Linked DNA regions of Homo sapiens. The protein of the gene in region 1 binds, or shares a complex with, the protein of each later gene. Each region holds a gene or a part of one and is shown in the gene's direction. Other genes may lie near its edges. The genes, in order: GTF2H5 and POLR2B.

Region 1 (12,293 bases):
TTAATACCTGTGCTTGTACTTAAATCTTATTTTTCTTGTTTTCAGTAAATTATAGTGACATCTTTTGGATTAAATTGTTACCTTTACAATTGATATTGACATTTCTCAAGACACCAAAAGATTATATGAGATTTTTTTCTCAAGAATTGCAAAAATCTGTGGTGCAGCTTGACATTTTTATATTCATTTTTTGCTAAACACATTGTGTATTAGATCTAAAGAGTGTCCTTTGTCATGATTCAAGGTTTTTATGAAAGAGACATTTTGCTGTAAATCTGTACTGCCCGAGAAGAAATTGTATCCCTCTTTTCCCTTATGACTATCCTATTCTTTCCAAACCAAAAACCACAAGTTAATAAAATTGAATTTGGACCTCTTTCCTTGAATGCCTATTACAAGCCAAGCACTGTCCTTGACATTATCTCCTTTAATTTCCGTAAACAATTCTGTTATGTAGCCTCACTTTTGAGGTTGGGAACAGAGGCTCTGGGAGATTAAGTACCTATTCTATTCAAGGTCACACAAGTAAGTGATGAAGCTGGGGTTGAATCCAGGTATGACTCTTGATATACACCCTGCCTGACCAAAGTGACTGTTTAACTGGTTTTGTAAGTTAATTTGTCACTGGTAAAACATTGAACACCTACTGGTTCCTTAGATGTAATGGGCATAGACAAGGAAGAAATTCAGTGTTTAAATCAGTTAAGAAAGCTGTGATTCTAGGCCCTACTAACTACAAAGCTTTCAATATTCTTTTATTTTTTCCACTTAGTGACAAATTATTCTTTAAAAATCTTGCCATTGGCCTCTGCCTCTTCAACTTACACTAATAGTTCTTTTTTTTTTTTTTGAGACAGAGTCTCGCTCTGTCGCCCAGGCTGGAGTGCAGTGGCACGATCTCCGCTCACTGCAAGCTCTGCCTCCCAGGTTCACACCATTCTCCTGCCTCAGCCTCCCAAGTAGCTGGGACTACAGGCACCCGCCACCACACCCGGCTAATTTTTTGTATTTTTAGTAGAGACGGGGTTTCACCGTGTTAGCCAGGATGGTCTCGATCTCCTGACCTGGTGATCCACCCACCTCGGCCTCCCAAAGTGCTGGGATCACAGGTGTGAGCCATCGCACCCGGCCAACTTACACTAATAGTTCTAAAATGAAGCCATGTCTATAAATTGTTAACACTTGAGGCAGAGAGGAAGTGAGGGATTGAGTAACAGAACTTTAAAAATCATTCTAAAAATTCTACATGTTCACATTTAATTGCTCAAGTCTCTGTGATGTGATTTGACAACAAGCTGTCTTACAATCATGTGTTTGTCTTTACAGTGATCCTGCCATGAAGCAGTTTCTGCTGTACTTGGATGAGTCCAATGCCCTGGGGAAGAAGTTCATCATTCAAGACATTGATGACACTCACGTCTTTGTAATAGCAGAATTGGTTAATGTCCTCCAGGAGCGAGTGGGTGAATTAATGGACCAAAATGCTTTTTCCCTTACCCAGAAATGAAAATACTCAATATGGACCATTTAGGAATTATAAGCAGCAACTGTGAAAGACTTGCCACTCAATATCTTAGGTGACTGATTAGACATAGAGGGTTGTTTTAGGAGCATGCCACGGGAAAGACTGAGGGATCATGATCATTTGTTCAGAAAAAAAGCCCCTGAACTGATTTTGTTACCATAGAATTTAAAAAAAAAAAAAGCTTTAACAGTTGGCTGTAATTTGGCTTTTATTATCCTTTATTAAAATACAAATGTCAATGCTTTTCCTGCCTTTTTAATACCATGTCAGTGTAACATAGGTATTTATTTTGCTCATCCCTGTGATCTGTGCATTTTTGCTGCGTGGATGTGATTGTTTGGTTTCAGTTAGAAACGTCATAGATTTGCTGTTTGAATATGCCAAGGTGGGGACTTAGACATTATGTACGTCTCACAAATCCTACCTGCATACCAGTCAGCTCTATTGAGGAAGACAATGTAAAACTAATGTAAACTACAGTTTGCATTTCCCTGAAAACAGAATATTGTTTTTAAGAGGGTTAGAAACAACCAGTGGGAAAGGCACATGCTGCTTTGTTTAGTTTTTCCTTGTTCAAACTTTGTTGGTCACATTTTCCCATCTGTATTCTTTTTTATTAAGAAAACAGCTTAGGGAGGCTGAGGTGGGAGGATTGCTTGAGCCCAGGAGTCCGAGGTTGCTACAAAAACACCATTGCACTCTGGCCTGGACAACAGAGAGACCCTGCCTCAAAAAAAAAAAAAAAAAAAAAAAAAATTCTACTTGTACCTTATTCCCTATGAGAATACTTATCAAACTTATCTAAAAAAGAAAAATAGGAACAGCCATATGCAAAGTCAGCCCAACAGGAAAGGACATATTAGATTAAAATACATTGCGGCCTGGGCTTAGTGGCTCACACCTGTAATCCCAGCACTTTGGGAGGCTGAGGCAGGCAGATCGCTTGAGTCCAGGAGTCGAAACCCTGTCTCTACAAAAAAAAAAATACAAAAATCTGCCTGTTGTCCCAGCCACTGGGGAGGCTGAGGTAGGAGGTCAAGGCTGCAGTGAACCTTGATCATTGCTACTGCCACTCCAGCCTAGGTGACAGAGTGAGACCCTGTCTCCAAAAAAAAAAGTGTATATGTATGTGTGTATATATAGCAAGAGAGAGTTCTGTGATCAATTGAAGGCAAAAACAGTAACACTGAGAGGGGCTTTGCTTCCCTTCCTGAAGATCATGTCATTGGGGTGGGTTCCTGTAAAGGGAATTTTCCAAGAGAAAAGAGAATTTTCATGACCTGTAGACTCTTACAAATCCATTTTACCTGCTTCCTTATGGTATGTTTATTCAAAGCACCTGTGTACCATATTTATTCACTTACACAGCATTACTGAATCTGGAAATTTTCAGTTAGGTATATTTTACATAATTCCCACCCATATAACTCAGTCCATACAGTTCACAGTTTTCATTCCCTCATAGCAATGCAAAAAATTTTGATGAGTTACTACTACTAAAACTAGTTAAGTAAAAGATGATTCTTAAGAATTTCCAGGCTGGGCACGGTGGCTCACGCCTGTAATCCCAGCACTTTGGGAGGCTGAGGCAGGCAGCTCACGAGGTCAGGAGATCGAGACCATCCTGCTCGGTGAAACCCCATCTCTATTAAAAATACAAAAAATTAGCCGGGCCTGGTGGCGGGTGCCTGTAGTCCCATCTACTCAGGAGGCTGAGGCAGGAGAATGGCGTGAACCCGGGAGGCGGAGCTTGCAGTAAGCTGAGATTGTGCCACTGCACTCCAGCCTGGGCGACAGAGGGAGACTCCATCTCAAAAAAAAAAAAAAAAAAAAATGAATTTCCAGCTATACCAAAATGTTACTAATGTATCTTATATTTCAGGCATGTCTAAATCAACTTTTAGTATGCCTCAGGCATTTGTCACCAACCTTTTATATTAACATGAAACTTAGAAAATTTTTGATAGAATCCCAGAGTTCAAAAGGTATTAGGATTTTTGCCACTGAAGTAAAAAAGAGAAAAAAAGATATTTATGAGAAAACTATTGAACAGTGACTGTGTTGTACCCGAGCAAGTTAGAGGAACGCCACACTTTGAGACGAATTTAAAAGTCCTTTATTTAGCTGGCAGCCAAGAGGTGGCTCACACTTGGAATTCTCTCAGCTCCGAGGAAGGGGCTTGATTTTCCTTTATACTTTGGTTTAGGAAGGGGACGGGAGCTCAGTTGCAACAATTCTACAGAAGTAAAAACATGCAAAAAATTAAAAAGACAAATGGTTACAGAGAAACAAACAGTTCCAGGTGCAGGGGCTCTAAATCTATCATAAGATGTCAGGTGTGGGGGCTCTGCCAGACACAAACTCAAGGCTTTATGGTGTATCTCTTGAGCGAAATCCTGGGAACTTCGTACATTGCTTGCTTCAGTACCTTATGAGTTAATTGGACTCTTTGATATGTTGAGAGTCAGCTTACACAAGTTAACTCCTTGAGGAAAGGGGGTGGGTAAGGAGTCCTTGATGTCCTGTAAATGAAGGAACCAAATGGAGTTCCTCCGGCTTTCTCAGCTAAGGGAGAGCTTATTCACATGGAAACAAGGCTAGGTGATTAAGGGAGAAAGGGACAGTCTGAAAACAAGGTTAGTAAAAACAAGGTTAGGTATTAGAACTGCAAAGAGTATTAAGTGAAATAAGTGAAGGAAAATATGAGCTCTTATTTTTAAAAAGTTGTGTTGGGGCAAATGTTAAATATCTTTCTTTCTCTGGACATTATTAAGAAAGATAGAGTGATGTGAATGATAGGAAGCCCACCTGTAACCACTTAGCTGACATGTCCAACTATGGGTGAACAGGAAATAAGCGACATTCACCTAGGCTGTTTATTGGAATCTGACTAGCATTATTTGATTTGGCATACTTTACATGTCCAGAACAAGGCTGTTGGTGCTTGGCACCAAGAAATTTATGACTTTTTTTTTTTTTTTAAATAAAGTCCTAAAGGTAGCATTAAAATGACTTAACTGGAGGCAGGAGGATCACTGAAGCCCAGGAGTTTGAAGCTGCAGTAAGCTAAGAAGGTGCCACTGCACTGCAGCCTGGATGACAGAGTGAAACTTTGTCTCTTAATAGAACTATGGACTGAAGTTGTGATATTGAGTGTTATATTTCTCAATAAAGGTTTTTTCTTTTAATACTGTATTAGGTCAAATTCAAGGTCTTAATTCCTTGAATTCCAATTTCCTTGTGAAATTTCATGTGATTAATTTAAAATTCCAGGGATCCTATCTAACATCACAGTTGATGGATATAACAATGTATTTTGAGAAATCAGTTTTGGTGAACAGTAACAGCATTACTGATAATAGGCAACAAACACTACTGCATTTTATTTCTGATAGGCATTATAGGTGGTAATCCAAATGATTAATGATTTTATTGCTCTTTACATTTTCTAGAACAGGTGATTTGACATAATTGTACTTTTTTCTGAGAAGTTGGTAGTGTACTTACTACTCTATTTTGCAGTTATACAATAAATCTTACTTAGCTGACAACTAGGAGTAAAAGCTCTGACAAAAAGCCTCTGCTGTAACTAAAATACTGAGATCATTCTATCTTAACAAACTTAACAGATGGGGAAGGGGTATATTTTAAAGATGGAGAAATGATGCAGTTTGCAAATATAGTCAATAAATATTCTCAAGTGTACGTAGCTCAATTTCATTTGCAGCAAAGATAACACTGAAATGTCTATGGATGAGATTATTGGATAAACTTTTTTAAAAACACTGTTCTCAAGATAGGCAAGTGATTAAGAGCACTGACTGGGCCGGGCGCGGTGGCTCACGTCTATAATCCTAGCACTTTGGGAGGCCGAGGCGGGCAAATCACAAGGTCAGGAGATCAAAACAATCCTGGCTAACAAGGTGAAACCCCGTCTCTACTAAAAATACAAAAAAATTAGCTGGGCATGGTGGTGGACGCCTGTAGTCCCAGCTACTCGGGAGGCTGAGGCAGGAGAATGGTGTAATCCCGGGAGGTGGAGGTTGCAGTGAGCCGAGATCGTGCCACTGCACTCCAGCCGGGGTGACAGAGCGAGACTCCCACCCATCTCAAAAAAAATAAAAATGAAAAGCACTGATTGAATCTAGATTCCTTGAGTCCAAGTGTCAGATCTCTGCTTACTAGCTCTGGGATCTCAGATGTTTCGTTGATTGGATTTCTTTGTGCTCATTTGTGTAAACAGGAATGCCCGTCTTTAAAGACTATTAAAATGAATGTGAGTTAACACACAAGAGGTCTTCAAAAAGTTGATGGAAAATGCATATTATGAAAAAAATTATGCATAGATTTCAAAAATCTTTGCAGCAAAATAAACTCATCATTATAACATGTCTGAACAGGATCTAGTTTGAGGCACTAAGAAGGATATCAGTTTAAATAGAGCCCCTGTCAGAACAATATGAATTCTGCTAAAACTGAAGCAAGAACAAACATCAAATTTATGGCAAAGCTTAGGTGGAAGAATGGTGCAATCATTGATGCTTTGCAAAAAGTTTATGGGAACAACGCCCCAAGGAAATCAGTTTACAAATGGATAATTCATTTTAAGAAAGGACAAGACAATGTTGAAGATGAAACCTACAGCAGCAGACCATGCCACTTCGTGAGGAAAAAATTATCTCATTCATGCCCTACTTGAAGAGGACCAATGATTAACAGCAGAAACGATAGCCAACACAATATGCTCCTCAGTTGGTTCAGCTTTTATAAATCTGACTGAAAAATTAAAGTTGAGCACACTTTCCACTCAATGGATACCAAAACCATCCAGCCCAGGTCAGCTGCAGACAAAAGCAGAGCTTTCGATGGAAATGTCAAACAAGTGAGATCAAGATCCTGAAGCATTTCTTCAAAGAATTGTAGCAAAAACAGACTTTTAAAACCTTGAATTCAGAGACAGGTATAAAGACTGCTTGGTGATTTTGAAAGGACTGAGATCATTTTGGGAGAGATCATCTTCAGAAAATGACCAGATACAACAAGAATTTAACATGGCAGCCAAACCAACCCACTAACACACATTTAAATAAGATACCCAAATGCAGAAAGAAAAGCACAGTCGTCATGCAAAATAGTCACTACTCATTCAAAAACTCTATAGTTGTCTGAGTCGTTATGCTCAAAATATCCAATAATATTTCTTTTGCTGAGCTGTAAAATAATTATTTTGCAAACATAAAAGAAAAAAAAAAGAATTGTAACAGAAACATGGCTTTACCAGTATGACCCTCAAGACAAAATACAAAACAATGGCTACCAAGAGGTGGAAGTGGCCCAGTCACAGCAAGAGCAGATTGATCAAGAGCAAAGGTCATGGTAACAGTTTTTTGGATCCTCAAGTCATTTTGCTTGTTGACTTTTTGGAGGGCCAAATAAAGATATCATCTGCTTATTATGAGAGTGTTTCGAGAGAAATCCAAAGCTTAGCAGAGAAACGCCTGGGAAAGCTTCACCAGAGGGTCTTCCACCGTGACAGTTCCCCTGCGCATTCCTCTCATAAAGCAAGGGCAGTTTAGCTAGAATTTCTATCAAAAATCATTAGGTATCCATCTCCCAGTCCTGATTTGGCTCCTTCTGACTTCTTTTTGTTTCCCAATCTTAAAAAAATCCCTGAAGGGCACCTGTTTTTCTTCAGCTAATAAAAAAGACATGGTTAATTTCCCAGGACCCTCAGTTCTTTAGGGATAGACTGAATGGCTGGTATCATTGCTTGAACTTAATGGAGCTTATGTTGAGAAATAAAAGAAATTATATTTTATTTTTATCTTTTAATTCTATTTTTCCATGAACTTTTTGAAGTCCCCTCAGATATAAAGCAGAACGTTATGAAACTGAGTTACCTTGAATCTAGAAGAGTACAATGATAAAGGGGAAGATAGAAACACACACATATGCGTTGTTTTCCCCACTTTCACAATGCCGTGCAGAAACTAACAGATGAAGGAGGAGAATCCCTAAAAACAGAGCATTGGGTAGCTAGTCCACCAGCGGTCTGATGCTTTCATTGATCTCAAAACTGTCTCTGAGTAACTCTACCAGGAAAGTTGTCTGGAGGGTTAACATTTCTGAAACCATTTTTATCTTTGCCTTCATTCTTGAATGATAATTAGTCTCGAATGTTTGGATCACAATCCATTGAAAGACTAGGCTATTTTTTCACTGTCCTCAGACATTTACTGAGTCCAGTTTGGACTTTATTTTATTTTATTTTTTTTGAAACAAGATCTCGCTCTGTTGCTCAGGCTGAAGTGCAATAGCGCAAACTCGGCTCACTGCAACCTCCCAGGTTCAAGCAATTCTCGTGCCTCAGCCATCCCTATAGGCATGCGCCACCACACTTTGCTAATCTTGTATTTTTGGTAGAGACGGGGTTTGCACCATGTTGGCCAGGCTGGTCTCGAACTCCCAACCTCAAGTAATCTGGCCTCCCAAAGTGGTGGGATTACAGGCGTGAGCCAGCGCGCCCGGCCTGGACTTAACTTCTGAAGAACTCTTTCTGTTTAGATTGCAGGAGCGTTCTCTCGGCTCATCTCTTGTTTTCTCACCCAGCTGTTCTTCTTCTAGTTGGCCATCATTCTTCATCCCTCCCTCCCTTTCCTGCAGTTAATTATTTCTTTGAAATTTTAAAACTTCTTAATGTTGCCTGGAATACATGAGTCTTCCTGATCTCTTCAAACGGGGTTTGTTTTGTTTTGCTTTGGGGAGAATTCTTTTGACGTTTTTGAATAAGCTGTTAACAACTTTAATACCTGTCTTGTTTGTTTTCTTCAGAAATTTGTTAATTCTCCATGATTAGCACCTTTATGTGGTTATCTCATTATTTTCATTCCTTTTTAATTCTCTGTTTTAGGAATGCTTGTCAAATTCGTCACTAAAATTGATTTACTTTCTTGAAAACCTGTTTCTGCTGCTCCCAACATGATTTAATCTTGGCTACTGAGCTTTTGGTTACGTTGCACTCCCTTTAAAATTACTCCGTTTAAGTACAGTGTTCACTCTTTGGGTAATGTGTACAATAGAAGCCCAATCCCCACCTATACCCAATATATCCATGGGACAAGCATGTACATGCACCCCCTGAGTCTAAAATAAAAATTTTAAAAAAACTATATCTGTCACAGCCTGTTTTTATTTTTAATTGAAGTTCTCTTTTTATGAGCGATACACATTCATTGCAGGCAGATTGAAAAAGGGAAACAAAAGAAAATACAACTCAACCATAATCCCACCACTCAGGAGTAGCCACAATTAAAATGTTAATAACAGGCTGGGTATGATGGTTCACACCTGTAATCCTAGCACTTTGGGAGGCCAAGGCAGGAGGATCCCTTGAGCTTAGGAGTTCCAGAACAGCTTGGGTAACATAGACCTTGTCTCCACTAAAAAAATCAAAAAAATTAGGCCAGGCGTGGTCTCACACCTGTAATCCCAGAACTTTGGGAGCCCAAGGCGGGTGGATACTTGAGGCCAGAAGTTCGAAACCCACCTGGCCAACATTGCGAAACCCCATCTCTACTAAAAATACGAAAGTTAGCCAGATGTGGTGGTGTGCACACACAGCTACTGGGGAAGCTGAGGCATGAGAATCGCTTGAACCCAAGAGGCAGAGGTTGCAGTGGGCTAAGATGGCACCACTGCACTCCACCCTGGATGACAGAGCATGACTCTGCCTCAAAAAAAAAAAAAAAAAAAAAAGACCGGCATGATGATGCATGCCTGTAGTCCCAGCTACTGGGGCTGGGGGAGGTGCTGAGGCAGGAAGATCGCTTGAGCACGAGGTCAAGGCTGTAGTGAGCCGTGATTGCACCACTGCACTTCAGCCTGGGCAACAAAGTGAGACCCTGTGTCAAAAAACATTTTTTTTTTAGACGGAGTCTTGCTGTCTCCCAGGCTGGAGTGCAGTGGCACGATCTTGGCTCACTGCAAGCTCCGCCTCCCGGGTTCACGCCATTCTCCTGCCTCAGCCTCCCAAGTAGCTGGGACTACAGGCACCCACCACCACACCCGGCTAGTTTTTTGTATTTTTAGTAGAGACGGGGTTTCACCGTGTTAGCCAGGATGGTCTCGATCTCCTTACCTCATGATCCACCCGCCTTGGCCTCCCAAAGTGCTGGGATTACAGGCGTGAGGCACCACGCCCAGCCTCAAAAAAAATTTTAAAAGCTAATGACAATCTTCACTTTTTTAAAGAATATAAAAAGAGTTTTGGCTGGGCGTGGTGGCTCACGCCTGTAATCCCAGCACTTTGGGAGGCCAAGGCAGGCAGATCACGAGGTCAGGAGATCGAGACCATCTTGGCTGACACGGCGAAACCCCGTCTCTACTAAAAATACAAAAAACTAGCCGGGCGTGGTGGCGGGCACCTGTAGTCTCAGCTACTTGGGAGGCTGAGATAGGAGAATGGCATGAACCCGGGAGGCAGAGCTTGCAGTATGCAGAGATCACGCCACTGCACTCCAACCCGGGCAACAGAGCAAGACTGTCTCAAAAAAAAAAAAAAAAAAAAAGAGTTCTACTCCCTATCCCAATGAGATCACACTGCTTTGACACTTGCCTTTTCCCTTAATTTTTCATGCTCCTTTATGAAAAACCTGAAGCAGGATTTCTATTTCAGAGGAAAGTTTTTTTTTCTGATTTTAGATGGGGAGCTTTCTAAAAATGTTGATGCCTGGCCTCAGCCCCCAGTCATTCAAATTTAGTTGTTCTGGGATATGACCCAAGCGTCAGCATCTTTAAAAGGCCTGCCTGGTGCTTCTGCTGTGCATTCAGAGCTGAGAACTCCTGGGCCGGTGTGTGCACAATGGAGACTCTGGGTAGGAGGTTTTGTTTTTGGGTTTCGTTCGGTTTCCAGTAGGCTAATCTACCAGCACAGCTGTTTCCTTTTACTGCCAAGGAAATGCTGAGTCTGCCCAGCAAGGAACCAGCTTTTGTTAAAATTCACTAATTAGATAACTGATTCCCCAAGTCGTTGCAGGATCTTATTTATTGACAGTAGCTAGCTTGAGTTGGATCCTTTGGTTAGACGGAGGAAAGTCATTGCAGCACTCATAATTGGTTAAGTTTTTTTTTTTTAAACATAAATTCACTAAGATATTTTAGTCTTGTGTTTATTTACTGTTTACCATGCTTTTGTGTGTGTGTGTGTGTGTGTGTGTGTGTGTGTGTGTGTGTGTGTGAAACAAACTCTTAAGCTATGTCAGCATATCCTTTCTCAGGCAGAGTCTTTCGGAGGTAGATGTCTAATTCAGTATTAACTGGTTTACCTAGCTCTCATCACTCCTCCGGCTCCCTCAAGCCCTCAGTAACATCTGCACTTACATAAGGTATTTGGATGTGTGACTTATATTTTATTAAATTAAGGACAGAAGTTGAGTTTGACACACAAAAACAGGGAGAGCAGAGGCAGGTCCGTGAGAGATAAACAAACACAACTAATTTAGTGACATGAAGAATTCACAGAAATCTTGGAAGGTTTTGAACTTCTGTGGACATGGAATGGAAGGGTTAGTCTTATGTCAGTTTTATCAAACACATTAAATCTGCCGGGCGCGGTGGCTCATGCCTATAATCCCAGCACTTCGGGGGGCCAAGGCGGGTGGATCACGAGGTCAGGGGTTCGAGACCAGCCTGACCAACATGGTGAAACCCCGTCTCTACTAAAAATACAAAAAAATTAGCTGGGCGTGGTAGCGGGCACCTGTAATCCCAGCTACTCAGGAGGCTGAGGCAGGAGAATTGCTTGAACCCGGGAGGCGGAGGTTGCAGTGAGCCGAGATCGTGCCACTGCACTCCAGCCTGGGCAACAGAGAAAAAAACAAACAAAAAAAAACACATTAAATCAGGTGCTATTTGCAGCTGTAATTTGTAACTATTGCACTTTGGATATGGTAGTAGAAGCTACCATGTCTAAAAGTAAATGTTCTATGAGTGTTTAAACCTCTAACTATGACTATACTGGGCAATTGGTCCAAAAGCCACTCTGAAAATTTTCCAGCATAAAGTTGTTATGGTCTTGACTGAGGCAGATATGCCTTTGAGGGCTTCTTAGTCTATATCAGTGCTTTTCAACTTTAAAGTACTTACAAATCATCTGGAAGTCCTTAGAATGCAGATTCCGATTAAGTGGGTGTGGGCTGGGGCCTGAGATTCTGCATTTCTAGAAGGCTTCCAGGGGATGGCAGTGCTGCTGTCTGGCAGGTCACATTTTGAGTAGCTAAGCTCAAACACCCAAAGTGATGGTGTCATAGAGAAATAGAAGTTAAAGAAAAATGTTTAGGCCGGACGCAGTGGCTCAACCCTGTAATCCCAGCATTTTGGGAGGCCAAGGCAGGGGATCACCCGAGCTCAGGAGCTCAAGACCAGCCTGGGCAACATGGCGAAACCCCATCTCTACTAAAAATACAAAAAATTAGCCAGGCGTTGTGGTGCATGCTTGTAATCCCAGTTACTCAGGAGGCTGAGACAGGAGAATCACTTGAATCTGGGAGGCGGAGATTGCAGTGAGCCGAGATCATGCCACTGCACTCCAGCCTGGGTAACAGAGTGAGACTCTGTCTCCAAAAAACAAAAAAAAAGAAAAAGAAAAATGTTTAATGAGGCAGAGACCATGACCATATGGATAGATAATATTCTATATGTGTTATATGTATCCGTCTCCCAAAGTTTTAAGTGGAACAAAACTGACAGTAGATTCCCTTTAAAAGATAAA
Region 2 (12,293 bases), on another chromosome or scaffold:
AGTGATTCTTTACCTCAGCCTCCTGAGGGGCTGGGATTACAGGCGCACACCACCACGCCCAGATAATTTTTGTATTTTTAGTAGAGACAGGGTTTCACCATGTTTGCCAGGCTGGTCTCAAACTCCTGACCTCAAGGTGATCTGCCCACCTTTGCCTCACAAAGTGTTGGGATTACTGGCATGAGCCACCGTGCCTGGTCTTTTTTTTTCTTTTTTTTTTTTTTTTGAGACGGAGTCTTGCTCTGTTGCCCAGGCTGGAGTGCAGTGGCGTGATCTAGGCTCACTGCAAGCTCTGCCTCCCGGGTTCATGCCATTCTCCTGCCTTAGCCTCCTGAGTAGCCGGGACTACAGGCACCTGCCACCACACCTGGCTAATTTTTTTTGTATTTTTAGTAGAGATGGGGTTTCACCGTGTTAGCTAGGATGGTCTCGATCTCCTGACCTCGTGATCCATCCACCTCGGCCTCCCAGAGTGCGGGATTACAGGCTTGAGCCACCGTGCCTGGTCTTTAATAGCATATTTTATTTGACTTGATACATCCCAAAGTATTACATCAACATTCTATTAATATAAAAATTATTAGTAAACTATTTTACGTTCTTTTTTTTCTGGTTTGGTGCTGTCTTTCAAATGCATTATGTAGTTTATACTTACAACACATCTCAGTTCAGAATCGCCACGTTTCAAGTGCTCAGTCACATGTGGCTATCCCCTGTATTAGATAGCTAGACTATAAGCCATTTGTCTGAGGGTGGGTGTGAGCAGTCAGGCTTACGTCTGATAGGTGGGTGTGAGAAGTCAGGCTAATGACTGGGAAAGTATGGTCAAAGCAAAGTGATATAGGGCTGGTTTTTGAAAGGTTACAGGGTGAGATATATGTCATCAGCAAAGAACCAAAATAAGAAATTGTCACATACTAGTGTTTGTGGTATTGAAAAAATATTTCCTACGTTAACTTGCATGACATTATTACCAGATAGTATTGTACAGGTTTATAATTGCCAAGGTTAGATTTTTCATTCATAAAATTTTAAATTATACCTAAGTTTTTAATATGTTAAACAATGGTAAACTAAGATTTGCACATTTTACTTGATAAATTGGTTGCTCCAGAAATTTAGTAGGATTTGTATTGTATTTTTAACTAAGCCTAATAATAAAGAGAAAATAAAAATTTGTGGAACTGTTTTTTCTTTTTATATGTAGGTTTCTATGATCAGAGATATTCGAGAGAGGGAGATTCGGATCTATACGGATGCAGGCCGTATTTGTAGACCACTTCTGATTGTGGAAAAACAAAAGCTACTTTTGAAGAAGAGGCATATTGACCAATTGAAAGAGAGAGAATATAACAACTATAGGTAAAAACATGCAGTGAGAAAAATGTGTGTATTAAAAATTGAGATAGAATTTACATACTGTAAAATTAACCTTTTTTTATTTTTTATATTTTTATTTAATTTTATTTATTTATTTATTTTTTTGACACAGCCTCAGCTGTGTCGCCCATGCTGGAGTGCAGTGATGCGATCTTGGCTCACTAACCTCCACCTCCTGGGTTCAAGCAATTCTCCTGCCTCAACCACCGTAGTAGCTGGGATTACAGGTGTGTGCCACCACACCCAGCTAATTTTTGTATTTTTGGTAGAGACAGGGTTTCGCCATGTTGGCCAGGCTGGTCTTGAACTCCTGGTCTCAGGTGATCCGCCTGCTTCAGCCTCCCAGAGTGCTGGGATTACAGGCATGAGCCACTGCGTCCGGCAAGTTAACGATTTTTAAAAAGTATACAATTAGTGGTTTTTAGTGTGTTTGCAATGTTGTGCAACCATCACCACTATCTTAATTTTAGAATACTTTCATTGCCCCGAAAAAACTCTGTATCCTTAGGAGTCACATTTGTTTTTCTTAACTTCTATTATGAAGCAAGATAATTAATAGGATTTTATTTAAGCTTAAAAGTCTTTTGATTGCCCAGGTGTAGTGGCTCATGCCTGTAATCTCAGCACTTTGGGAGGTCAAGGTGGGAGGATTGCTTGAGGCCAGGAGTTCAAGACCAGTCTGGGCAACATATTGAGACTCCCATCTCTCCAAAAAATAAAAAAATTAGTCAAGTGTGGTGGAATGCACCTGCAGTCCAGCTACTCAGGAGGCAGGAGGATCACTTGAGCCCAGGAGTAGTGAGTTTTGATTGTACCAGCCTGGGCAACAGAGCAAGACCCTGTCTCAAAAAAAAAAAGTTTTTGTGATATATTAAAATCTATTAATAGTAATAATGCGAAATAACCTATATAATCTAAATTATTACATATAATATGACAATAATATGAATAATATAATAAGAAATTTAGTAAAAAGATGAAGCTGCTTTAAATATTTATTTTTTAGCAATATGAATGTATAGTTATGTATACTAATATAAAAATCATTCAAACAATATGTATGATAAATTTAAAAAATTGCCCTCCAATGTATACTCTCTTCTTCACAAGTATATACTGGTAACAGTTAGGTGTGTATTCTTCCAGTGCTTATTCTCCAGCAGCTTACCTATTTCACTTGTCAACAATCATGTAACTATGTTGGTCAGTTATATATAATATTAAACTATATATATATATAAATATATATGTATATTTAATATATAATATTAAACTTATTTAAATATAAATATAGGAATACTTTTAAGTAGGAGGAATAGTTAGTTAAAATACTTGAGGAAGTAGAAAATTGAGTGAATTCTTTTTTAGTTGGCAGGATCTTGTGGCCAGTGGGGTAGTGGAGTATATTGATACCCTGGAAGAAGAAACAGTGATGCTTGCAATGACTCCAGATGATTTACAGGAGAAAGAAGTAGCTTATTGTTCCACATATACACACTGTGAGATTCATCCCTCAATGATCCTTGGTGTCTGTGCATCTATTATTCCCTTTCCTGATCATAACCAGGTTGGTATCACTTTTTGTCTTCTGGTGTGAGGAATTGGGAGAAGTAATAAAAATTGAAAGTAACTCTGTAGTCTTATCTGGAGGGAAAAAGCCTTTTAATGAAAAGGCTATTAACTCCTACGGAATCAGTATTTGATATAATTGCTGTTGTGTTTCATGGTTAAGAGCCGTAATTGATTATTCCAAATGGTTATTACTTACTGTTTTTGAAAAAAATCAGGAGTTTTACCAATCATATTTCTTTTGATTTATTGTCAGAGTCTTTTCCATTAGTGATAGTAACTTTTTGTTGTTTCTGCTTTTCATTTTTACGTTTAGTCCCCTAGAAACACATACCAGTCTGCTATGGGTAAGCAGGCTATGGGAGTTTACATCACCAACTTCCATGTTCGCATGGACACATTGGCCCATGTTCTCTATTATCCTCAAAAGCCACTTGTGACTACACGGTCTATGGAATATCTACGATTTAGAGAGCTGCCAGCAGGTATGGTCAGTTTTGCTCTACGTTATTTAAGATCCTTCTGTGCTTAAGGCACTTTTCTGGGTGCTTGGGAGGATTAAAAAATAAATATGACATAGTGCCTGTTCTCACGGAATTTATAATATGGTGGGAAACATGAACATAATAAAAAGGTAGGTATGTGGAAAGTGTTTTGGTGGAGGTACAAAGTCCTTTGGAAGCACAGACTGATGGAAGCAATTAATTCCTGTTGGAAGTCTAGATCCAGTTTCATGGAGAAGGTGGCATTTTAGATTGGAGCAAAATTGATGAAGGGGTATTTGCATTTGAGAGGTGGTTTAAGCAAGGGCCCAGATGGACGAAGACATGCAAAATGTACGGTACAGTTAGTCATGTCAGCTTAGTGGGAGTGGAGTGTAAATATATGGAAGTGAAAGCTTGGTCTCAGTGTGGAGAGAGCTTGAACAGGTTGAATTTTATTTTGAAAATGGAGACCCATCCAACCTTTTGGATCAGGGAAGTAATACAATTAGAAATTTGTTTTAGGAATACCATTCTGACAGCGGCATAAAGAGTAGATTACAATCAGGTACTGTATTAACAGGGAGCTAATTTAGGGGTTTTTGCAGTAGTATAAATGTGAAATGGCAAGGTCCTAAAGAAATGAAAAAGAATGATGGGTAAGATACCTTTTGAAATACACTTGATAGGACTTGATGACTGGTTGAGTGTGGAGCAATGAAGAGAGGAATTGGAAATACTGTTGGTGTTTGTGGCTTGGGTGATTAAAGAGAGGTGCTTTGAATAGGTTGGGGGAAAAATAAGATTGGGAACATGTTAGAAGGGGAAAGAGGTTTTAGAGGTAAGACAATAATTTTGTTTTGGATATGTTGATTTAGTGTCTTAGTGTCAGAACACTAAGACGTGAACTTCCAACAGTGAGTTGCAAACATGATTTGAAAGACGGTCAAGTCTAGAGATGTAAAATTTTTAATTTATTAATGATAATTATAGATTACTATGAAATTGCCTAAGGAGAATTTAGAATGAGAAAAAGGCCAGAGGCAGACAATTTTAGACACCAGGAAGAGAAATTAAGAGAGAAGATTTGAGAAGTAGCTGATAAGGAGGGGAATTCCAGGTTTGTAGGAGATTCTCAGGGAGACTGGATGGTGGGTAAAATGGTGAAGAGAAATCTGAAGGGTATGAGTGTTGACTATTAAAGGAGACAGTAGAGTTCTTTGGCACTGTTATCTTTTGTATTAACAGACTTTTGGCTTTGAATGTGGGTAACATTTGTTATTTGTTAGTAAAGTTTATCTTTAGTGTATTGTAATGGGGCTCTACCATTTTGATAGCAAATTCTCATAGGTTAAAATTACTTATTTTCAAAATCCTCCACAAGGGGTTCCTCTTGTCTAGAAAAGCAAAATCTGTTAGGTTGTCTACACAGTATGCATGTATCTTTGGGCTGTGCTTGCAGTGCTGTGTTTTCTCCAACATTTAGATAATACAGTTTCTTTATGGCTAGAGAGGAAAATAAATATACAGAAGGACTAGGTTTGAAAGCAAATGTTCCTTTGGTACTGGTGTGAAGTGGAGAGTCATGGCTGGCAGGGACTGCAGTTCTGTTATTCCTGACTTCATCATGGCATCTTTATTTTGAAATTCTTTTTTTTTTTGTAGAGATAGGGTCTACTTTGTTGCCCAGGCTGGTCTCAAACTTCTGGGCTCAAGTGATTTTCCCACCTCAGCCTCCCAAAGTGCCGGGATTACAGATGTAAGCCACTACGGCCAGCCCATCGTACCATTTTTAAAAAAACTTTTAACATTTTACCACATTTGCTCTATTATTCTCTCCCTTTTTATTTCTCCTCCTGAACCACATGAGAGTAAGTTGCAGGCATGAAGCCATATCATTCTTTAATTCTTCAGTATGTGTTTCCTAAGAACAAGGACATTCTCTGCAGTGTAGCCATCAAAATCAGGGTAACATTGATATCCATATAGTCAGCAGTCCTCAATTCAAATTTTGCCAGTTGTCCTAATGATGTCTTTTTTTTTTTTTTTTTTTTTTGAGAAAGCAACTGTTATTGTATTCAAACCTAACGATGTCTTTAATGGGTCTAGGAGCTAATCCAGGATTGTGCATTGCATTTAATTGCATGGTTCTTTAGTTTCCTTAATCTAGAACAGTTTCTCAGTCTTTCCTTGTCTTTCATGACCTTGACATTTGTGAAGAGTTCAGGAAAGTTATTTTTGCATTGTGTCTCAATTTAGGTTTGACTATTGTTTCCTCATGATGATATCCAGGTTATGAATATCAAGTTATTTTATTTTATTTTTTTGAGACGGATTCTCGCTCTGCCACCAGGCTGGAGTGCAGTGGCACGATCTTGGTTCGCTGCAACCTCTGCCTCCTGGGTTTAAGCGATTCTTCTGTCTCAGCCTCCTGAGTAGCTGGGACTGCAGGCGCGTGCCACCACGCCCAGCTAGTTTTTGTATTTTTATTAGAGGTGGGGTTTCACCATGTTGGCCAGGATGGTCTCAATCGCTTGACCTTGTGATCCACCTGCCTCGGCCTCCCAAAGTGCTGGGATTACAGGCGTGAGCCACCATGCCCGACCTAAATATCAAGTTATTTTATGGGCTCATCAAACAAAGTGTTTTGGCAGCAGCAACTAAGAATTTCATTGTGGTGGGAAAGATATGATATTTTCTTGGTGGCAGAAGGAGAGGGGAATGGGGTAGTATCAGTTTCAAACCTAAAAGCTGGGGCTTGAGTCTATTGCTTATTAATTTTGGGATCATGGGTAGATTATTAATTCACTCCTCTGATTCATGAGAATAATAATGCTTATCTTGTTTATGGCACAGAGTTGCTGTGAGGATCAGGAAACTTGGTTTGGGGAGGCACTTCCTAAGTAGGAGGTGACTCATGTGTAATCACTTACTATAAGAATGGATACATTGGGAGTGACTAGTCCTAGGATTTGCTTGTGGGAGATATTTAGCCATCAGAGTAGTTGCCTCACAGATTGCTATTCCAGGAGGAATAGACTTTGGCAGTTACCATGATAACAAACACCCAAGCATTTATGGCAAATATGATGTAATTAAAGTTGATTTAAAGAAAGGGCAGTTTTTCTGTTTTCCAGGTGATGTTTTAATGTATGCTCTTAAATTCACTGCAGGCATCAACTCAATTGTGGCCATTGCATCATACACTGGATATAATCAGGAAGACTCTGTTATCATGAATCGTTCAGCTGTAGACCGCGGCTTCTTCAGGTTAGTATTTTGTAAATTTGTCAAAACACAGATACAGTGGAAACACTAATTTTTTATGCAAAAAAAGTTCTTAAAATACAGTTTAACTACGCCGCACTCCAGAAAGTGGAAGGACTGGTTGATGGTCACAAACAGCTGAAGATACTACTTGTATCTCTCAGGATTTTCAAATGCTAGTATTTTGAGCCTTTCTTTTGGTAAGGAAATATACAGTTGCATTTAGATAATATAGAAATGTCCAAAGAAGAAATAAAAATAACTTAGAATCCATAGATAACTATTGTTAAAATTATAGTGTGTTTTCTTTTCGCTCTTTTTTTCCATTATGTTTCAGTTTGATTGTCGACAAACAGACCTCAAATTCAAGGCATATAAAGATTGTTTTAAAAACTGGGAATTTAGTAGAGGGGATGGATTTTCCTTTGTCTGTGTAGTTTCAAAGGGTAGCACTAGAACTCAGAGGACAGATACTATGGCTTAATGTAAAAACTTTTTTTTTTTTTTTTTTTTTGAGACAGAGTCTTTCTGTTGCCAAGACTGGAATGCAGTGGTGCAATCTTGGCTCACTTGCAATCTCTGCCTCCCAGGTTTCAAGAGATTCTCCTACCTCAGCTTCCCAAGTACCTGGGATTACAGGCACGCACCACCATGCCAGAGTTTTTTTTTGTTGTTGTTTGGTATTTTTAGTAGAGACGGGGTTTCACCATGTTGGCCAGGCTGTCTCAAACTCCTGACTTCAGCTGATCCACCCATCTCGGCTTCCCAAAGTGCTAGGATTACAGGCGTGAGCCACCATGCTCAGCCAATGTTAAAACTTCTCACTGGAAGTGTTTGAGTAGAACCTAGGTGACCATCTTTCAGGGTTATTATGTAATGGATTCTTAAATGTGTCGGAGGTTGGATTCATTGACCCCTGGGTCTCTTCCATTTTGACATATAATACTAGGTGGTTAAGGTTATGGGTCAGATGCTACATATGTATAACTCATGTGATAACATTTAGAGTTTAACTCAGATCCTTAATGCAGTTACTCTTGTCCCAGATTCGTAGTTTAAATTGTCTCCCAAATTTCAAGTAAATGAGAAATTGTTGGTATAGTCTCAGCCCTTTTGTTAAAAGAAAATAGACTTTACCTTTAGAACCATGTGTTTTTAGGTCTGTTTTCTATCGCTCATACAAAGAACAGGAGTCTAAAAAAGGATTTGATCAAGAAGAAGTTTTTGAGAAGCCTACACGTGAAACATGCCAGGGTAAGTGACACTAACATTTAAATGATGGAATCCAAAGTTAACTTACTGTGGTTTTCCTAAGTGATTTTGATGGGTTGTGTCACCCTGTGCCTGCCCCTGTCCTCCTCTCCCTTTTTTTGTGCAATGAAAGTGTGTTTTCATGTTATTCTTAGAGTTCACATCTAAGAAAACATGTGTATTTGATAAAAGTCTTTGCACCTAGGAGTGAGCTTGCTATAGACCTTCCTTCCTGGTAGGTCCTGCATTGAGGAGGGAGTTTAGGAAATCAGAGAGGTCATGCAATTTCTGGGGACACACTTCACACCTGTCCCCCTTCCTTTCTAAATTATGGTGTGATCATAATATTTGTTCAGCCACATTGTTTGTAAACATTTAAAAAATAACCAGTGAGAAGAGGATACCTAGCATTTGTTGTTTCTTCTAGAAAACTCAAACTTACTTTCTAGTTATTTATTTTGACAGACACTTAAAACCTGCTTATGCAGTGGGATGGATGGGATGTTCCAGGGAAATGCAATATCTCTGCTACAGTGTTGACTCTGAATAGCATTGCATGAAGTAAAATGTATTTTGTTTCCTTTGCCATCTTCCTGTTACTCCCCTTCCATTGGGTGGCTCTGTGTAGTAGTGAATTGATGTCCAGTGGAGTTAAGATTGAGTTAAGATGAAATCCACAATTTCTGTGGGAGGATGTGTACAGAGGGCATCCATAGATACTCTCTTTTTAATTTAAAAAAATTTTTCTCCTGTACCCACTGATGGCAGAGATATTCTTTCTCTTGTAATATAGAAATCAGAAGATGACAAAAAACATATCCAAAGTCACTCGATAAATGTCTGTCATGGAAGAATCTGCTTTCCCAGTGCTGATTCCAATGTTCTTTTCCTTCATAGACTTTTTTTTTTGTTTTCTGTGTGGGCTGTAGTATTAGAGTTCAGAATAGTTTGTAATATTTGGAATAAGGGTGTGATTCATGGTATAGAGACTCCTGTGGCCTTCTCTCTGACTTGGAACTGATTCATGTATGTGGTTTTTAATCTTTGTTGGGGATTATGTGACATTCCGTGTCTATTTCCTCACAGGCATGAGGCATGCCATTTACGACAAGCTGGATGATGATGGTTTGATAGCTCCAGGGGTTCGTGTATCAGGAGATGATGTTATTATAGGCAAAACAGTCACCTTGCCTGAAAATGAAGATGAATTGGAGAGCACCAATAGACGCTATACCAAGAGAGACTGTAGCACTTTTCTCAGAACTAGCGAGACGGGCATTGTGGATCAGGTTATGGTAACTCTCAATCAGGAAGGATATAAATTTTGTAAAATAAGGGTGAGTACAACTTTGTTCATGTAGCTAGTTTTAGAAAGTAAACCAAATCCACTTAACTAACTTATTTTTATATGAATTTAGGTACGCTCTGTTAGGATTCCACAGATTGGAGACAAATTTGCTAGTCGACATGGTCAAAAGGGTACTTGTGGTATTCAGTATAGACAAGAGGTAGGTATCTTTGATCTCCCTCATGCCCAAACCAGTTTTGTTAAATATTTTTTTTTTAATCAAAATTTGCTTTAACTTAAGAGCTCAAAGATGATACAGGTTGAACTTTTTGATTTTATTGTTGAATAAGTATATGAACATACCATGTTTAAACAGAATTTGGGACATACAGTAATTCAGTTGGGAGAACTGAAATGTCAGTTCTAGTTTAGTATATGTATCTTTGAGTCCCTTTTAAAATTTTTCTTTGTAGGATATGCCTTTCACCTGTGAAGGTATCACCCCTGATATCATCATCAATCCCCATGCCATCCCCTCTCGTATGACTATTGGTCACTTAATTGAATGCCTTCAAGGGAAGGTAAGAGATGTTCTTCAAAAATATAGATTCTAAGCTGATGCTTCTTCTAAAACTCTGATAGGTGATTGCTCTCACATTTGAGCCAGGGTACTTTGTAAAAAGCTAGTGTGAGACTTACTTTTCTGCTTTCAAATTGCTTATGATTCTGCCATTTTTTTTGGCAATTTGCAAAGTTATGGACAAGTCAGAATTTTTGTGAGATATACTACATTCAACTAATACATATGTGATTTTCCTTTTGACTAGTTCTTTTCTGTAGATGAACAGTTAATTTGTTGATGGAGAGTTCAATGTGAACTTAATAATTTTATAGTTCTATTATCAGCTCTGCATACATCTTTTGGTGGAGGTTTTCTATTTTTAAGTATTCTTTTAAGGTAAAGTGGTAATAGTCTAACATATGGATGGCTTGGTTTTAGGGCATTAAAATGTCATTTTCCTTTGAGCCATCTGAAGTACTTAGGAGTCTCACTCTTTTTGTACCTGATCCCATGGATCGACTTCTATTTGAATACTTATAATTGAGTTTTTCTTTTTTAAGCAAGTTTATTTGTTCTAAATGTTTTGTGTAAGGTTATAAAATGAACCTTATATATCACAGCTTTCCATAACATAGATTTTGAGTTCAAAATCTTTGAATTTTAAAATACTTAAAATAATACTTTCAAATTTTAAAAGTATTTAAAAATTTTTTGAATGCATTTTTATTGATATGACTTTTAGGGGGAGACAGACTGAAGCAACATTTTAAAGAGTACTTTTTTTTTTAAAAGGTATCGGCTAACAAGGGTGAAATTGGTGATGCCACTCCATTTAATGATGCTGTTAACGTGCAGAAGATTTCTAATCTTTTATCTGATTATGGCTATCATCTCAGAGGAAATGAGGTATATTTGCTCTTATAGTAGTAATTTGCCACTTGTTTTTTTTTGTATGTGTGTAGTTTTATTCTGAAACAATGTAACCTTTTATTGAAGTATCATATGTGCACATATAGAAATGTACAGCTTGATGAATTTTCACAAAGTAAACACAGCTGCATGACTAACACCAAGATCTAAAAATGTGAAGGTAGCGACTGAACCTTTTTTAGTCGCTACCTTTCCACTCCCACCCCAAGCTAATTACTCTCTTAATTGCTAACATTATAGATTAGTTCTGTGCTTTAATTTTTATATAAATGGAGTAACACAATATATACACATATCTTCTTTGACGTTGTTTAATTTTTAGGTCTACACTTCAAAATCTGTGTTTGTTGCAGGTCCTGTACAATGGGTTCACTGGTCGAAAAATCACATCACAAATATTTATTGGCCCCACTTATTACCAGCGTTTGAAGCATATGGTGGATGATAAGATTCACTCTCGTGCTAGGGGACCTATTCAGATCCTCAATAGACAGCCCATGGAGGGTAGATCTCGGTAAGAACTGTATCATCATCATTATTATTAATTAACCTTATATTATGAAAAATGTCAACACACCAAAATGGAGATAGTGGTATAGTGAATGCCTGTGTGCCTGTTACCCCCATTTCAACAATTATCGACTGATGGCCAGTCTTGTTGCATTCATCTCTGTCCTTCTAACCTTTGATATTATCATCATGTTTTAAAGGCAGAGTCTCACTCTGTCACCCAGGCTGGAGTGCAGTGGCATGCCCACAGCTCCCTGCAGCCTTGAACTGGGCACAAGCAATCCTACCTTAGCCTCCCAAGTAGCTAAATTAATATTGTCTCTTAAGTCCTTTTTTGAATTTATTGGTTGTCCTCCAACCTTTTTTTTAACTACAGGCATGTGCCACTACACCTTTAAAAAAAAAATTTTTTTTTTGTAGAGGCTAGGCGCAATGGCTCATGTCTGCAATCCCAGCACTTTGGGAGGCCAAGACGGGTAGATCACCTGAGGTCAGGAGTCCAAGACCAGCCTGGTCAACATGGCAAAACACCGTCTCTACTAAAAATACAAAAAATTAGTCGGGCATGGTGGCACACACCTGTAATCCCAGCTACTCGGGAGGCTGAGGCATGAGAATCACTTGAACCTGGGAGGCGGAGGTTGCAGTGAGCCGAGATCACACCCCTGTGCTCCAGCCTGGGTGACAGAGTGAGACTTCATCTCAAAACAAAAAACAAAAAATTTTGTAGAGACGGGGGTCTCACTATGTTGCCCAGGCTGGACTTGAACTCATGGCCACAATCCTCTAGCCTCAGCCTTCCAAAGTGTTGGAATTACAGGCGTGAACCACTGCACCCAGCCCTCTTGATTATTTTTAAGCAAAGCCCAGACATCATATAATTTCTCCTATAAATTTTTCAGTGTATATCTTTAAAACAATGGTTCTCAAATGTCTTGATCCCGGGAACCCAAAATGCTTTTGTTTTATGTGAGTTGTATTTATTGATATTTATCATATTAGAAGTTAAAGCTGAGATTTTAAATTTATTGTTTTAAAAATGCTAATAAGCTCA

The links.
Region 2: GTF2H5 (region 1) and POLR2B share a complex: the UniProt entries of both Homo sapiens proteins name them as parts of the TBP-based Pol II pre-initiation complex.

Annotation. Positions count from the first base shown.
Region 1 is NC_000006.12:158,190,651-158,202,943, forward strand, and holds the end of GTF2H5 (general transcription factor IIH subunit 5), read left to right. Parts: intron 1-1,326; coding exon 1,327-1,507; 3' UTR 1,508-8,694; downstream 8,695-12,293. UniProt on the Homo sapiens protein: Component of the general transcription and DNA repair factor IIH (TFIIH) core complex, which is involved in general and transcription-coupled nucleotide excision repair (NER) of damaged DNA and, when complexed to CAK, in RNA transcription by RNA polymerase II.
Region 2 is NC_000004.12:57,014,295-57,026,587, forward strand, and holds part of POLR2B (DNA-directed RNA polymerase II subunit RPB2), read left to right. Parts: intron 1-1,207; coding exon 1,208-1,362; intron 1,363-2,748; coding exon 2,749-2,947; intron 2,948-3,265; coding exon 3,266-3,434; intron 3,435-6,604; coding exon 6,605-6,701; intron 6,702-7,857; coding exon 7,858-7,952; intron 7,953-9,035; coding exon 9,036-9,286; intron 9,287-9,367; coding exon 9,368-9,457; intron 9,458-9,710; coding exon 9,711-9,818; intron 9,819-10,591; coding exon 10,592-10,705; intron 10,706-11,082; coding exon 11,083-11,243; intron 11,244-12,293. UniProt on the Homo sapiens protein: Catalytic core component of RNA polymerase II (Pol II), a DNA-dependent RNA polymerase which synthesizes mRNA precursors and many functional non-coding RNAs using the four ribonucleoside triphosphates as substrates.